Homo sapiens: one gene and its partners. The protein of the gene in region 2 interacts with the protein of the main gene of each other region in a pairwise test. Each region holds a gene or a part of one and is shown on either strand. Other genes may lie near its edges.

Region 1 (4,469 bases), on a different chromosome or scaffold from region 2:
GAGTTTAGCAACGTCATAGAATAAAAGATTAATATACAAAAATTATATTGTATTTCTATATACAAGCAATGACAAATTGAGGATTGAAATTAAAATATATCATTTACAATAGCATAAAAATATAATACATATGGATGAATTTAACAAAATATTTGCAAGACCTATATAGTAAGAATTGCAAAGCATTGCTGAGAAAATTAATGGAGACCTAAATAAATGGAGACATATACCATGTTCCTGAACCAGAAGACTCAAAATAGTTAACATGTTCTCCCTAAATTGATGCAAAGATTTAAAGCAATATCAGTCAAAATCCTAGGAGAGTTTTGTTATAGAAATTGACAAACTGAATCTAAATTTATATGGAAATGCAAAGCAATTGTGAAGATTAGCCAAAGCAATTCTGAAAAACAAACAAAGCTGGAGAACTTACGCCATGTGATTTCAAGACTTACAAAGCTACAGTAATTGAAGACACTGAAGCCACGCGTAAGGAAACACATATGGACTACTGGAACAGGCTGGAGCTCAGAAACAGACCCGGTCCAGGAAAAATGATTTTTTTTTTTTCTTGAGACGGAGTCTCGCTCTGTTGCTCAGGCTGGAGTGCAGTGGCGCGATCTCAGCTCACTGCAACCTCTGCCTCCCAGGTTCAAGCGATTCTCCTGCCTCAGCCTCCCAAGTAGCTGGGATTACAGGTGCCCGCCACCATGCCCGGTAATTTTTTGTATTTTTAGTAGAGACGGGGTTTCACCGTGTTAGCCAGGACGGTCTTGATCTCCTGACCTCGTGATCCGCCTGTCTCGGGCTCCCAAAGTGCTGGGATTACAGGCATGAGCCACCGCGCCCGGCCAATAAATGATTTTTTAAGAAGATGACAATTCAGCGGGAAAAAGTCTCTTCCACAAATGGTGCCGGAACAATGCACATGCAAAACAAAACTGCCTTCACTATTACTTCACAACATATTCAAAAATTCACTTGAAATGGAGCATGGGTCTAAAAGCTTTATAAAATTTCTAGAATAAAACAAAGGAGAAAAACACTGGGACCTTGGGTTAGATAAAGGTTTCTTACTAAAATGCAAAAAGTACAATCCACAAAACATGATTAATCAGACTGCTTAAAAATTTAAATGTCAGCTGGGTGCTTGCCTATAATCCCAGCTACTCGGAGGTTGAGGCAGGAAAATCGCTTGAACCCAGGAGGCAGAGGCTGCAGTGAGCTGAGATCGCGCCACTGCACTTCAGCCTGGGCGACAAGAGCAAGCGACTCCATCTAAAAAAAAAAAATCATGCTAAAAGAAATAAGCCAGACACTAAAGGACAAATATTGTATGATTCCACTTATATGAAATATTCAAAATAACAACTTTATAGAGAAAGAAAGTAGACTGGAGGTTATCAGGGACTGTGGGGAGGGAGGAGAGAATGGGGAGTTATTGTTTAATGGTTACAGAGGTTTTCAGGTTTTGTTTTGTGTTGTTTTGTTTTTTTTTTTTGAGACAGAGTCTTGCTCTGTCAGCCAGGCTGGAGTGCAGTGGCGCAATCTCAGCTCACTGCAACCTCTGCCTCCTGGGCTCAAGCAATTCTCCTGCCTCAGCCTCCCAAGTAGCTGGGACTACAGGCATGTGCCACCACGCCTGGCTAATTTTTGTATTTTTAGTAGAGACAGGGTTTCACTATGTTGGCCAGGCTGGTCTTGAACTCCTGACCTCAGGTGATCTGCCCGCCTCGGCCTCCCACCGCGCGCGGTGGTTTTGGGGTTTTTTTAGAGATGCAGTCTCACTATGTTACCCCAGCTGGTCTTCAACTCCTGGACTCAAATGATCCTCCAGCCCGTGCCTCCAGAGTAGCTATGACCAGATCTGGGCCACTGCCCACGGTTTAAGGGTTACAGACTTTCTGTTTGGGGTGAAGAAAAGTTTTGGAAATAGATAATGGTAATGGTTGCACATCATTGCAAATGTAATTAATGTCACTGAATTATACACTTTAAAATGGTTAAAATGACAAATCTGATGTTACTTTACCACAATAAAAAATCAATTAAAAAATTTGTGATTACTCAAATCCTTATCAGTAATCAATAGGTGAATCAAGACAAATTGTGTTATCCATACAAATGAGTTCTATTAGGTAATAAAATGCGTAAATTTCTGCTACATATAACATGGATGAATCTCAAAAGCATTGTGTTAAGTGGAAGAAGCCAGAAACAAAAGACTACTCACATGTTTCTATATATACGAAATTCTAGAAAAGGCAAAACTTTTAACGGAGAGCAGATGAGCGGTTGCCATGGGCTGAGAATGGGAAAGAGGATTAGTATGGGGCATGGGAAGCTTTCTGAAGGGGTGGAAGCATTCTGTGTCTAGATTCTGGTGGTGAATACATAACTGTACATATTGACAAAACTCATTAAACTTTGCACTTAAAATAGGTGAATTTTATTGAATTTTAACTATATATCAATAAAGCTAATTACAATTAAAATGTCATATCTAGATAAATTATAAAATGCCTCTTCCACTCCTTATGTTCCTCTCTTTTATATTTTCATTGATATGTGAACTTCTTGTTTTTTAGAAAAATATGAATTAAGGCCGGGCACGGTGACTTACACCTGTAATCCCAGCACTTTGGGAGGCCAAGGCAGGTGGATCGCCTGATGTCAGGAGTTTGAGATAAGCCTGGTCAACATGGTGAAACCGTGTCTCTATTAAAAAATACAAAAAAATTGCTGGACGTGGTGGCAGGCACCTGTAATCCCAGCTACTCGGGTGGCTGAGGCAGCAGAATCGCTTGAGCCCAGGAGGCAGAAGTTGCAGTGAGCAGAGATCGTGCCATTGCACTCCAGCCCAGGAAACAAGAGTGAAGCTCTATCTAAAAAAAAAATATATATATATACATATATATATGAATTAAAATAGGACTAGTAATATTTGGGCAGACTCATGTCAATGTGGATCTGAAAAAAGTCAGCGTCATGACATCCCCAGGAAGTGGCCTGTTCCCACTGTGCAGTTCAGTTACACGTCTGTCTCCCCTTAAGGCTCGCTATTTATTTATTTATTTAATTTATTTATTTATTTTTTATTGAAAAAAATTTATTTTTAGCCGGGTGCAGTGGCTCACGCCTGTAATCCCAGCACTTTGGGAGGCCAAAGCCGGCAGATCACCTGAGGTCAGGAGTTCAAGACCAGCCTGGCCATCATGACGAAACCCCATCTCTACTAAAAATACAAAACTAGCCGGGCGTGGTGGCGCATGCCTGTAATCCCAGCTACTCGGAAGGCTGAGGCAGGAGAATCACTTGAACCCGGGAGGTGGAGGTTGCAGTGAGCCGAGATTACGCCACTGCACTCCAGCCTGGACAACAAGAGTGAAACTCCGTCTCAGAAGAAAAAAAAATGTAATAGAGGTGAGGTCTCCTTATGTGGCCCAGGCTGGTCTCAAACTCCTTGGCTCAAGGGCCCTCCCACTTCAGACACCTAAAGTGCTAGGATGACAGGCGTGAGCCACTGCACTTGGCCACTTGAGGCTCTTGACACGCCTATAACACACTGCTTTGCACCTAATCAGAAAATATGTGTATAGAGGCCAGGCACGGTGGCTCACGCCTGTAACCCCAGCACTTTGGGAGGCTGAGGTGGGTGGATCACGAGGTCAGGAGTTTCCGACCAACCTGGCCAACATGGTGAAACCCCGTCTCTACTAAAAATACAAAAAAATTAGCTGGGCATGGTGGCGGGTGCCTGTGGTCCCAGCTACTCGGGAGGCTGAGGCAGTAGAATGGCGTGAACCTGGGGGGCTGAGATCACGCCAGTGCACTCCAGCCTGGGCAAGAGAGTGAGATTCGGTCTCAAAAAAAAAAAATTAACTGCGTGGTGGTGTGCGCCTGTAATCCAAGCTACTCAGGAGCTTGAGGCAGGAGAATCGCTTGAGCCCGAGAGGCAGAGGTGGCAGTGAGCCCAGATCACGCCACTGCACTCCAGCCTGGGTGACAGAGCAAAAGAGAGAGAGAGAGAGGAGGGAGAGAGGGAGGGAGGGAGGGAGGAAGGAAGAAAGGAAAGGAAGGAAGGAAAGAGGAAGGGGAAGGGGAAGGGAAGAAAAAAAATATATATATATATAAAAGATATGGATCAGAGGCTCTATATATATGCACACACACATATATATCATATACATATAATGTATAATGTGCGTATATATGTGTGTACGTACACACACACACACACACAATAGTCCCCCATATCTGCAGGGGATATGTTCCAAGAGCTCCAGCGGATACCTGAAACCACAGATCATACCAAACTCTGTATATTCAGATGCTTCTCCACTTATGATGGGGTCGAACTCCTATAAACCCGTTGTAAGTCAAAATATCCTAAGTTCAAAAGGCATTTAATGCTGGCAACACAGTAGACTGTCCCTGACTCACAATGGTTCAACTTACAATTTTTTTTT
Region 2 (5,439 bases):
GCCAGGACCTGGCGGATATGAAATACAAAAATTAGAGGTACACAAAACAAAACCCTGGCTTTAAAAATCTCCTCTACATGGCCAGTGACCAATAACTGAACAAAATCAAGTGTGGAATTGGATGCAAGCAGGAAAGGAGACTGAAGTGTAGGGATTTGAGAAACTGAAATGCTTGCCAAGGCCAAGGTAGCAGTGGAAATAAATACACCTCCACTGGCCATTTGTTCATGGGAACAACTGCTTGTTAAATGGTGAAGTAATTTTCAGGGTTGATTGGGAGAATTTATACCAGGAGAAAGAAGGAAAAAAAGGTTATAACTTCATTTCGTAGTTTGGGTTATTCTTTCTTGGGCTTGGTGTGGTCAGTATAAAGCAGAGCAACTATTTTCTAGTTTCCGCTGTGCACTTCATGTATACTAGACACTGTGTGAGTCACATCAGGGACTACCCACACCACATAAATAGCAGAAAAGACAGAAGCCAATGATGCCATCTCTTCCCATCACACTGAAGTTAACAGAAAGCCCACTGGCAAGTTTGCCAAGAAAACACGTATGTACAAACTCATGGTAACTGGTTGTGTTATTAAGTCTTGAGTTCCTCTTGTGCCGCAGGTTCTTGGAATTTCCTAGTCTTTGATTAACTAAGATTTATCATTATTTAGGACAAAAGTGTTGTGATTCTATATCACAAATACAGGGATGATATTTTACTTCATTAAAATAATATAAATAAACAAGATGTTCAATCTTAGATAATTCAAGTGCCAAGATAGACTGTTTTTTGTGTTTTTTTTCTTTACACATGAATTTTTTTCTGGTTTAATTCTCTAACCATTCAAACAGGAAAATTCAAACTTTTCCAGCCATAGTTAAGTCTAGCTTAAAATCTTATTTAAAAAACCGTGACAATAGAAACAGAATTTTATAACTTAGGAGAGTGCTTCCTAGTTAATATTTTCAATATTCAGTGATCTCTGTGAACATTTAAGTGGGAATTTTAGTTTTTAAAATGCTCAAAATTTACTTCTGTGGGTCTCACTCATATGCAAACTGCCTATATCTGAAATTATGAGTAATCAAAAAGTCATTTTTACCTTTGTTCTTTTTGTGTGTATTGTATATGTTATTTTAAAATGGTGAGCCCATTTTAAAGAAATTGTGTGCTTTTAATCAATCCATTAAGTAACACATTCTGAGAAAATATCTACTTTATACAAAATACATTGTTTTCTCTTCAAGATAATGCTGAAATATAAATGACAACAATGACATTCTTAAATTGAAATCTGCCTTGTCTCTCCTCCATCCCGAAACATTATTTCATAAGTCAAGTGTCTGCTCATAGCTTACCTGTCTCGCTTCCAATCAAAGGCTGATTTGCAAAATGCTTGACAAAATCCTTCAAAGATGAGAATTCATTAAAGCCAAATTTAAATGAATATCCAGTATATTCAACATGAAAGTGTTTAACAGAATCTTTGGCCCTAAAAGGGAAAAAGAAGTATTTAATATTATTTAACAAATAAATATCTTGTTGAAGGGAAATATGATCTCAGATGTTAGCATCACTATTAACCCTTTATAAGAACTGAGAATTAGGCAATCATTGAAACCACTGACAGTTTTAAATAGCATCACTAGTTTCTTTTGGCAGAGTTTGCTCTTTTCAACTTTTATTAATTAATTAATTCATTTATTTATTTACTATTTTGAGACAGAGTCTTGCTCTGTCCCCCAGGCTGGAGTGCAGTGGCATGATCTAGGCTCACTGCAACCTCCGCCTCCTGGATTCAAGTGATTCTCTGGCCTCAGCCTCCTGAGTATCTGGGATTATAGGTGTCTGCCACGATGCCTGGCTAATTTTTGTATATTTAGTAAAGACTGGGTTTTGCCATGTTGGCCAGGCTTGTCTTGAACTCCTGACCTCAGGTGATCCTCCTGCCTCGGCTTCCCAAAGTGTTGAGATTACAGGCGTTAGCCACCACGCCCAGCCTCAACTTTTCACTCTAATGGAAGACAAGAGACTGTTCTCCCTATCTACTCCTAGACTTACCAAAAGAGTCCTTGAACATTATGCTGCTAAGGGGCATGAGTTTAAGAAGGGCAGAGAATAGGAATGATAGAAATGACATATGACACCCTCACCACACTCTCCTCTGCCTTGGGCTTTTCTCCCTTGCTTGTTTGGGAGTCAATCAGAATTCAGCTCTGTCGCTTGATTAGTTACGTGAGCCTAGCCCTTTTCCTCCCGTGCATGTTCCACTGCCTACTGAATAAAATATCAAATTTCCTACATTGTCATTTTCCACTTCATTTTTGAAATGAGGCAGAGTATTAAACAATATATATATATCTATATATATATCTATAGATATCTAATCTATATATATCTATAGATATCTATATATATCTATATATATATATCTGCCTCTCCACTTTATTTGATCCCATTCTATCTTTCTAGCCTCACTTCCTGCTATTACTCTCAGTGCAGCCCATGCTACCATGTTAGCATGCTTCAGAATCATCTGATGGGCTTGTGAGAACCCAGCTTGCTGCCACCTCCACCTCCACCCCTGCAGATTGAGATTCGGTAGATCCAAGGTGGGGCCTGAGACTGTGCATTCCTAGCATGTTCTTAGGTGACACACCTGGTCTGGGGACCACACCTTTAGAACAGCTGCCCTAGTCCAACTGGATCTACTGCTCTTCAAGGAGTTTCCACTTCTGTCCCTTAGTTCATACTGTTCCTTTTTCCTGAAACGGTCTTTCTCTTTGTCTCTGCTGGTAGAAATCCCAGCCACTCATTAAGGTGCAGTTCAAGTACCACCTCCTCTGTCAAGTATTACATGATAATTCCAGCTTAAGTTAACTGCTTTTTCCCTTCTGAACCACCTAAACACTTATCTTGCTTTCTTTTATGTTATTTGTCAACCTCTACTTTGTAGTATGTTACTTGTATGTGGTCTTTTTGGCTCTGTGAGGCTGTAATTCCCCAAAATAAGGTATTTCAATCTTCTACAGCAGGGATCCCCTATCCTGGGGCTGCAGACTGGGTACCTGTTAGGAACCAGGCCGCACAGCAGGAGGTGAGCAGTGGGTGAGCAAGCATTACTGCCTGAGCTCTGCCTCCTGTCAGATCAGTGATGGCATTAGAGTCTCAGGAGCCTGAACCCTATTGGGAACTGCACATGTGAAGGATCTAGGTGGCACACTCCTCATGAGAATCTAATACCTGATGATCTGAGGTGGAACAGTTTCATCCTGAACCCGCATTTTCCACAAAACCAGCCCCTGGTGCCAAAAAGGTTGGGGACCACTGTTCTACAACACGTACCAAAGTGGCTGGTGCAGAATAAATGCTTTCAAATATTCATCATTAAAAGAATGAACAAATAAGTGAATATTTGTTCATAAAACAAAAATAGTCATTCTCCTGAATTAGTCTGTGGTTTTTGTCACCTCTGCTGGTCATTTTTTTAATAAGCATTCTCTAGTGCTTGCAATGAAAATCAATAATTTATTCTTTATTTTTTATGTATATGAAATATGTATGTCATTGATTTATAAAAAGCTTATGATCTAATTGCTCAGATGAGACATACATAGGTGAAAAGTTAATTAACTTTTCATTTTTGGAAGATTCATGCCAGGGGTCCCCATCCATCCCCCTGCCAGCCACGTAGCAAGAAAACGAGTGATGGGTGAGCTAGCGAAGCTCATTTTTATTTATAGTTGCTCCCCATTGTTTGCATTCTCAATGAGCTCCACCTCCTATCAGATCAGTAGAGGCAATAGATTCTCATAGGAGTGCAAACCCTATTGTGAACTGCACATGCAAGGGATCTAGGCTGTGTGCCTCTGATGTTAATCTAATGCCTGACGAACTGTCACTGTCTCCCATCACCCCCAGATGGGACCATCTAGTAGCAGGAAAACAAGTTCAGGGCTCCCACTGATTCTGAATGATGGTGAGTTGTATAATTATTTCATTATACATTACAGTGTAATAATAACAAAAATAAAACACACAATAAATGTAATGCACTTGAATCATCCCAAAACCATCTGCCGCTGCTCCGGTCTGTGGCAAAATTGTCCCTGGTGCCAAAAAGGTTGAGGACCTCTGATGTGTGCAATAAAGCATCTACAACTTAACCATTAGATGAACTTTTAACATTTGCTGTTGAGCAGAGAAAGCACAATTCTTGTTGCCACTCAAACAGAATTCCATCTTGGATTAATAATTTTTTCATCTATGTTATTCAGAAAATTTATAAATAAAATATAACAGGGTGACATGAGAAATGTTAATGAATATGCTTGTTTTTCCTCTGTGACCCCTACTTACCCCATCACCCTCTACCTGTTTCGCACACCCACCCACTTCAAGTAGGCCTGTAGATTTTCACTGTTCCAGGAATGGGAGTTGTGGCAGGCAGCATTCTAAGATGATCCCAAATCCCAGCCCCTGGAGTACACACACTTTATCCCAATTATTCAATCAAAAACTAGTCTACATGCTACTGGGAAGGGATTTAGCAGGTCATAAAGTCCCAAGTCAGTTGATGTTAAGATATGGACATTATCTGAGTGGGCCTGAACTAATCACATGAGCCCTGTAAAACAGAGTTTTCTCTGGCTGCTCACAGAAGAAAAAGTCAGGGAGATGTGTTCTGGCTGGCATGCAAGAAAGCAAACACCCATGTGGTAAACAGCCATGGGTGCCATGTGGCAAAGAACTGTGGGTGGCGTCTAGGAGTTGAGAATGGCCCCTGGCTGACAGCTAAAAGGAAAAGGAGGACCTCAGTTCTACGGCAGCAAGGGAATGGATGAAAAAGGATGAAGAGGAAAGGAGAAAATGAAGGAAGAAGACACTAAATACCAGATCAGAGCCACAAGCTTCTCCAACACCTTTATTTCAGCCTGGTAGGATCCTGGACAGAGAATCCAGCCAGAAACTGTGAGATAATCCAGTTGCGTTGCTTTAAGTCCCTAAGTTTTTGATAATTTGTTATGTAGCATAGAAAATGAATATAGAAGCAAGGCCCAGAGCCCAAAGAGACAATGTGAATGCTGCTACTGAGTTAGTGACCAGTAGTGACCGTGTAGACTGGGAAAGAAGTGAGAGAGCCTCTGAGGCCAGATTAGCTTGAGGAACTGCACTATGAAGGGAAGAGTGACTCTCCAGGGTATATGGAGGTGCCATCAGAACAGTAACACAATAACAGTTTGAGCTTAATGGGTGGGTGGCTGAGGGAAATTTCATGGAGTCCTTACATCCCCTGCCTAATCCATGGAGAAGCGCCTAAAAACCCAAGAATACTTGCTACATGTCAGTGGAAGCCAGAGTGTCAGATGCGACTGAGAACCAGCCGCCTCCCCTGACTACCAGAAGCTTGGTCAGCCTCTCTGATCTGGGGCACCAGACAGAAAG
Region 3 (4,469 bases), 5.9 Mb from region 2:
CTTTTCATGTGATTATTTGCCATTTGTGTATCTTCTTTAGTGATGTGTCTTATACGTTTTTATGATTCATTTCATAGCATAAAAATTGGAGCAACTCAGCAACGAGAAAATGAACAACACAATTAAAATGAGCAAAAGATCTGAGTAGACAACCAAAAAAGATACACAGATGGCAACTAAGTATATAAAAAAAATGCTCAGCATCATATATCATTAGAGAATTACAAGTTAAAACAAGGAAATGCCACCTATCAGAATGGCAAAAACCCAAAACACTGACAACTCCAAATGATGGTGCGCATGTGGAACAACAGGAACTCTCATTTACTGCTGGTGGGAATGAAAAATAGTACAGCCACTTTGAAAGACAGTTTGGTAGTTCCTTACAAAGGTAAATATACTCTTACCATACAATCCAGTAATTGTGCTTCAAATGAGTTGAACATTTATGTCCACACAAAAACCTGAACACAGATAGATGTTAATAGCATCTTTATTCATAATTGCCAAAACTTGGAATTAACCAAGATGCCCTTCAGTAGATGAATGGATAAACTGTGGTACAGCTATACAATGGAAAACAACCATCAATAGAAAAAGAAGAATACAATAATTCCAAAAAGAATCAATATAAATAACAATGGCATTTGCAAATGTCTATAAACAGTACAACTGAAAATCATTTTGGAAAACTTTACATCTTATATTCAATTGTCTACATCTTTCATTGGTAGTATGTTTTTACCCCTCTCTAAGAACTCCTCTATAATCAACTGCATTCCAATCTGGAAACCCTTTCATCTATAATTCATGGCCATGAACACATTCCTCTGTTCCTGACCCTCTATATACTTGATAAGTTCTTAACACACTGCATATAGAGAGTTAATTGGACAACATTATATCAAAAACCTAAAATCCTTAATATATACTTATGCAAATTAGTTTAACTGTTTAATGGGGAAAGAATTAAAATAAGTATTAAATTCCTCAACACAAATAATGTAACACGTTTAAATTATCACAATTTAATATCTGTAGTCTGCAATCATTGATGTATTTTGAGGGGTCTCATAGAAATTTTGTAGCTCACTGCAGAAGTGTAAAAATGGAGAGCTTGTACTATTAATAATGATCTAAAGTTCCATTTTTTTGTGTTTGTGAAACTACCTTCTCTGTATGTGTGAACTATTAGGCATAATCTAAATGATATTCCTTACCAATAATGTAAGAAGCATCTTTCAGAACCATATTTTTAAAAATTACACAATGAGGTAAGGAGAACATTTTACTAAAGAAAATAGTAAAAAGATAAAAGAGAAAATTGTAAATATTTAAAACTAAAAAAGATAACTAGCACTATAGAATTTTTTTTTTATAAAGCAGCACTTAAAGTAAGACTTTTATTTTTTCAAATTAGAAAAATTTTAAATTGTTCTTCCTGATACAAACTCATATATTTTTGTTTTCTCTTGGTCAGATGCTTTCTCCCTAGCACTACCACCAAATTCTATTTTCTTGAAAATTTAGAGTGTTCTTGCTTCTTTGAGAGGCAACAAATGTTTCCGTAGAAACCATTATGATGTCTCAAACACATTATGACTTATGATTATGAACAGATTATGAACAGATTATGACCTTTAAATAAAAAGGTCAAGTCACAGGAAATCTCTACAGATATATTTCACAATAATATCAGAGCATGAGACAGAAAGGACAGAAAATAAAAAATTCATACATATATATTATACTGTATTTTAAGTGGACTTTAAGATTAAATGAGCACAAGTAATTGATTATAAGAACAAGGACTGTAACTCTCTTTGAATACTGAAGCACTTAAAACACTGCCTTGCAAATAATACCCTGTTGAGTGAATGAACAAATGATAAAGAATCCATTTGTTACCTTCAGAGAGTAATCCCCTCAGTCAGTATTTTTCAAGTTGCTATTTATCACTCATTTAGGGGTTGTGAAATCAACATAGTAGGTTTTTAAAAAATGAAATAGAAAATATCAGAGTACACATCCTATAAGTTATTTTGTAATTATTTATATATTTTTTTACATATTATTTAAAGATATACATTTATTTCTATAATTATCCAACTTGTAAAATGTATTACAGTTGTCCCTCAGTATCCATGGAGGATTGGTTCCAAGACCTGTATCAGAAACCCAAATCCACAGATACTCATACTCATGTCCTTGATATAAAATGGTATAGTATTTGCATATAACCTATACACATCCTCTCCTATACTTTAAATCCTAGATTACTTCTAATACCTAATACAATATAAACACTGTGCAAATAATTGTTATTCTGTATTGTTTAGGGGATCACGACAAGAAAAAAGTCAGTACATGTTCAGTACAGATGCAATTTTTTTTCCAAATATTTTAAATCTGCGGTTGGTTGAATACATGAATACAGAACCAATGGATATGGAAGGCCATCTGTATTTACTGAGTTAAAGTAAAAAAAAAGTTTGAAAAATACTCTCTAAGGTACCCTGAGAGCCAAAAAGTTTATTAATTCTCTCAAGAATTGTGAATTGCTTGGAAATAGATTAGGTGCTAAGGGAATGGATCTTTAGACATGATAATCACACAAGAAATTTTCTCTTTTCCTCATCTTTCCTGTACTCTTCGTTCTAGTGACTTATTTTTATTTGTTAGATGTACGTGGCATCTTTCCTTTCTTTTGAAATGAAGTTGCAATTAAATAACAATAATTCATGTTTACAAGAAATTGAGGAGGTTTACTCTGACAGGTCACTCCATTTATCAACATGCCAGGCCACTCTACTAATATCCAGATAGCTCAGAAGGTACTGAACCACATTCATTACACTCATGAAGATATATTTAAGGAAGTTGCTAATGAAAACTCTGTGAAATGAAAATTAAATTTCTTCATAAGGAATGATTACCAAATAGTTACCTGGCTCATAAGATCAAAACCATTATAAATATCACAGAGTTCTTTAAGGACAAGAAAAAAAAAAGATGATCTATTTTTAAAACAAAGGTTTAAAAAAAAAGCATAGCTATCAAAGCAAAAATAAAATTTTAGTAACTCTGTAGTTAATTGTCAATAAAGGGCAGAAAAATTTGTCAGAATAAAAAGAGAAGCAAGATGTTGCATCTATTCAAAATATCTCCTCCTTTGCATTCCTTTACAATCACTTACTATATAAAATATTTGTTCTTATTTTATATCATTTCCTTAGTCATACTTCCTTTTTTGAAAATATACTCACAGATGTTTAGGTGAGCAGTGTAAGCAGAGAAAAAACAGTAAACAACCTATCTAAATGAAAATATAATCCCAGCTCTCTGTTTTTTACTTATAAATTAGAACTAGTGAGTTAAAGCTAAAAGCTCTTGAGGACCTAATGAATAGGAATAGACACAGAAAATACAAATTTACCACTAAATAAGTGGCATCAACCATTTTTGCAATATGCCAGCAAAAAGTGAGGTTCCCAACTTTATGCCGATGGGAACACAGGAAGAGGTATTTAGTTTTGCTAAAAAATCAATTTCTAAAAGAGGAATGATTTTACCTAAGCTAATAAAGATGTCTGTGTGTGTGTGTGTATGTGTGTATTTAAACTCAATTCAAAGCATTAGAAGTTAAAATGTAGAAAATTAAATCATAAGTGGTCAAATTACAAGATTTTATAAAATGATAAAATGCAACTTTCTGTCTTATAGGCGTACAATAATGTTTTAAATATTTCTGTCAAAGTGTACTTGCTTACTAGTAGCAACTGAAAAATAATATACAATCTTCTAGTATTGGAACAGTAGGATTTTGCCCTAGTATAGCTATTCATTGCTATTTCTCCCATAATGTTGATACGCTATCTACTAGAAAATTCTAGCAAATAAATTGAATGGGGGGAAACATGAGTGTACATATTAATTTATTCCTTTTAAATCTATTTCTAAGACTTTTCAGAGGAGAGGGTATCGTCAGGCCCCTTTCCTTATGAGGTGCTGAGCCATCAGGGGTTAACTTTGTAAAGTAATAAAGTATTTTCTGAAAAGGAAGAGCTTGCAGCAGGTTTATATATAATACCTTAGCATTTCCATGTTTGTCTCTGACAAATTAAAAAAAAACAAAAAAAACACCTCATCGATTCTACTTGTTATTGTTTTCCATCTTTGGTTTTATTCTGTTTAGCAGAACTGGGTATTTTCCCTAGTTCTTCTAATTTTGACCCTTAGTAATTCAAACCTTGATTTAGCAAAATTGACTCTTACTTTTATGTCCTTGACTTTATTCCTGCGACTAAATATTCTGTCCCTAGATTCAGTTTTATGTTTCTGGTAACTTGACCTTGATTACGGATGTTGAACTTGATCCTGATTCTGATCATTTGGATGGCCACTCCATTCACCTCAATGTATGTTAATGCAAGCAAAAAGGCTTGCCAACATAACCACTATATGAATTA
Region 4 (3,249 bases), about 39 Mb from region 2:
TCTGCAAAACATAAAAAATAAATTTGCTGGGTGTAGCGGTGCATGCTTGTAGTCCTAGTTGCTTGAGAGGCTGTGATGGGAAGATTGCTGGAGCCCAGGAGTTCAAGGCTGCAGTAGGCTATGATTGCACCACTGCACTCCAGCCTGGTTGACAGAGGGAGAGCCCGTGGAGGGAAGGGGGAAAGGAAGGGGGAAGGAAGGGAGGGTGGGAAAAAGAAGTGTAGGAAGGAAGGAAAGAGTGAAAATATAAAGTTTCTGTTCCCATGGTCACCATTTTATCAACTGAAGGACTCATTATACACAACTGATTCTATTATGTCAAATGTACCTTGTTTGCACAAAGGCACACAGGTGGTCTTAGCCAAAACTGAAAGATAATTTGTTATATTATTATTTTTAGATAATGAGAAAAATGAAAGCTCATGCCTGCATGGGTGGATGCCTGAGCAGGGGAAAATAATATTACCACACAAAGGAGTCAAAAGTCACTGGTCAGCAATATAAATGTAAAACATTCATTTGTCAAATGCATTCATCCAAAAGGTGTAACAGTGTTCTTCAGGTTTCAGTTGAACTTTTCCTTTCTAAATGAACTTATACCTAGAGTCATTCTGGATTAAGCTAGGAAAGAAGCCAAAAGCAAATAGTGTTCATTGCTAGACTAAGTGGATGGAAATTAGTGCCTCAAAAAATAAATAAAAATAAAAAATTAAGAAATTCATTTACCTTGAAATGGATGTATCTCTGCTTTTGTTTTTTCTTTCAAATTTGTTTTATGTTCTGTGTGTTTGGCTTGGTCTGATGTGACTGTCTTGTAAGCCTGAAAGTAAATGTATGCTTAGGTTTATTTCTTGAGCTTTAAGATTTGTCACGCCACATCCAAAGGTACACTCAAGTCTCCCTGTAATCACCATTAGAAGTTTAAACCATAATCCCAGTGTAGCAAAGAAGAGAAATCAGTGCACACCACTTACTCTTTTACTTCCCTTTTGGAAATCTTTGTTATTAAATAGAATGCTTTAAAAAGGAAGAAAGGTGAGACAGGGGATGAGGAGAGAAAAACTACCTATTGGGTACCATACTTATTACCTGGGTGACAAATCAATCTATACATCAAACCCCCATGACACATAATTTACCTATTAACAAACCTGCACATGTACACCTTAACCTAAAATAAAACTTTTTAAAAAGGGAAGGAAATAGATGCACTATCTTAGCCAAAGATAACTAAAAACAAGGAAGAAAAAAATGAATTATGCTACAACCAGAATATCCTGACAGGCATATACAAATATTTTCTAGCATTTATCCTTGAGAAATGGAAATCTAGGTTCACATGAAAACCTGTACACAAATGTTCATGGTACCTTTATTTGTAATAGTCAAAAACTGGAATCAGGCCGGGTGCGGTGGCTCATGCCTGTAATCCCAGCACTTTGGGAGGCTGAGGTGGGTGGATCACCTGAAGTCAGGAGTTCGAGACCAGTCTGGCCAACATGGTGAAACCCCATCTCTACTAAAAATACAAAAACAGCCAGGCATGGTGGTGGTGCTCGCCTGTAGCCCTAGCTACTCAGAAGGCTGAGGTGGGAGAATTGCTTGAACCCAGGAGGTGGAGGTTGCAGTGAGCCGAGATCATGCCATTGCACTCCACCCTGGGCGACAGAGCAAGACTCCATCTCAAAAAAAAAAAAAAAAAGAAAAAAGAAAGAAAGAAACAGTATTGGGAAGAAAGCTATTTTAATCACAGACAAAATGTGCAGGCTTCCTTTCATTTTATATTTAAGTAGTCTTCTTTGGCCTGTATTCATATTAGAAAATGATATAAAAAATGAAAATCTCATTATTCAGTTACTATTGTTTGTATTAATTTAGCTTTTAAGAAAATGTTGGTAGTGGTTTAACTTTTAATGGTAAGATGATAGATTTCTAAAATTTATTTATATATAGTGTCTTCTAAATTTTTAACCATCAGAAACCAAGTACCTTATTTAAAAATTGTACTACTTAATTACAAACAATTTTACAGTGTAAAAATTATGCTGTGAAAATAGAATGTCTGTAATGTCGGGGCCGGGTGCAATGGTCCACACCTGTAATCCCAGCACTTTGGGAGGCTGAGGCCAGCGGATCACCTGAGGTCGGGAGTTTGAGACCAGCCTGACCAACATGAGAAATCTGGTCTCTACTAAAAATACAAAATTAGCCGGGCGTGGTGGCGCATGCCTGTAATCCCAGCTACTCGGGAGGCTGAGGCAGGAGAATCACTTGAACCCTGTAGGCAGAGGTTGCAGTGAGCCGAGATCGCACCATTGCATTCCAGCCTGGGAAAGGAGGGAAACTCCGTCTCAAAAAAAAAAAAAAAAGAAAGAAAGAAAAGAAAAGAAAATCTGGGTCAAGCCTGTAATCGCAGCACTTTGGGAGGCCGAGGCAGGCGGATCATGAGGTCAGGAGATGGAGACCATCCTGGCTAACATGGTGAAACCCCATCTCTACAAAAAGTACAAAAAATTAGCCAGGAGTGGTGGCGGGCGCCTGTAGTCCCAACTACTCGGGAGGCTGAGGCAGGAGAATGGCGTGAACCCAGGAGGTGGAGCTTGCAGTGAGCAGAGATCGTACCACTGCACTCCAGCCTGGGCGACAGAGCGAGACCGCGTCTGAAAAAAAAAAAAAAAAAAAGAAAAGAAAATCTATAATGTCGGGTAGAAGTGATGTAAAGTGACCCTTTTATAGCAAACTTCCCGGGGTTTAGTGAACTCAGACTTGAATCATTTGGCTTTGAAACATACAGAGCAAATATGATCAACGGGAATGATAATCAACATTTTCTGTATAAAAGCAAGGAATATTTTCCGAGTAGGGTGTGTGTTCCTGACACCTTGTAGGACCAATATGATAAGTCAGTATCCCCAGTTCTCAGTACACAAACCGAACCAGTACACAAGTTCACATCCCTGAAAGGATCATTCCAGGAACAACATTCCAAGGGACATTAGTCTCATTGCTCAAGGGGCTAAAACACAAGGCAAGAAAAAAGACTAACTTTAGGGAGAATTGAAGAGATACAATACTAGAATAATTCACCCTAATGTGTGGCCCAAAGAATCTAGGTTTTCCAAATCCAGCACAGTCGAGCACAGAGTAGAATAAAGGCCTATTAAAAGAGAGGGTCTCAAATTTAGACTTTGGCAGTTATTTACAAATGATATTAAGTATTTATTAAGTATAAGCATTTAAAATATACTA

What was found. The genes of interacting proteins can lie anywhere in the genome.
Region 1: the proteins of DAPP1 (region 2) and TM4SF19 interact in a two-hybrid assay, tested with the Homo sapiens proteins (one large-scale study listed by BioGRID and IntAct).
Region 3: the proteins of DAPP1 (region 2) and GSTCD interact in a two-hybrid assay, tested with the Homo sapiens proteins (one large-scale study listed by BioGRID and IntAct).
Region 4: the proteins of DAPP1 (region 2) and MGARP interact in a two-hybrid assay, tested with the Homo sapiens proteins (one large-scale study listed by BioGRID and IntAct).

The regions. Positions count from the first base shown.
Region 1 is NC_000003.12:196,328,389-196,332,857, forward strand, and holds part of TM4SF19 (transmembrane 4 L6 family member 19), read right to left. Parts: intron 1-4,469. UniProt on the Homo sapiens protein: Negatively regulates vacuolar (H+)-ATPase (V-ATPase) activity by interacting with members of V-ATPase V0 complex and hence inhibiting V1-V0 complex assembly. Required for multinucleation during osteoclast differentiation.
Region 2 is NC_000004.12:99,836,336-99,841,774, reverse strand, and holds part of DAPP1 (dual adapter for phosphotyrosine and 3-phosphotyrosine and 3-phosphoinositide), read right to left. Parts: intron 1,487-5,439; coding exon 1,353-1,486; intron 1-1,352. UniProt on the Homo sapiens protein: May act as a B-cell-associated adapter that regulates B-cell antigen receptor (BCR)-signaling downstream of PI3K.
Region 3 is NC_000004.12:105,721,315-105,725,783, reverse strand, and holds part of GSTCD (glutathione S-transferase C-terminal domain-containing protein), read right to left. Parts: intron 1-4,469.
Region 4 is NC_000004.12:139,267,946-139,271,194, forward strand, and holds part of MGARP (protein MGARP), read right to left. Parts: intron 821-3,249; coding exon 727-820; intron 1-726. UniProt on the Homo sapiens protein: Plays a role in the trafficking of mitochondria along microtubules. Regulates the kinesin-mediated axonal transport of mitochondria to nerve terminals along microtubules during hypoxia.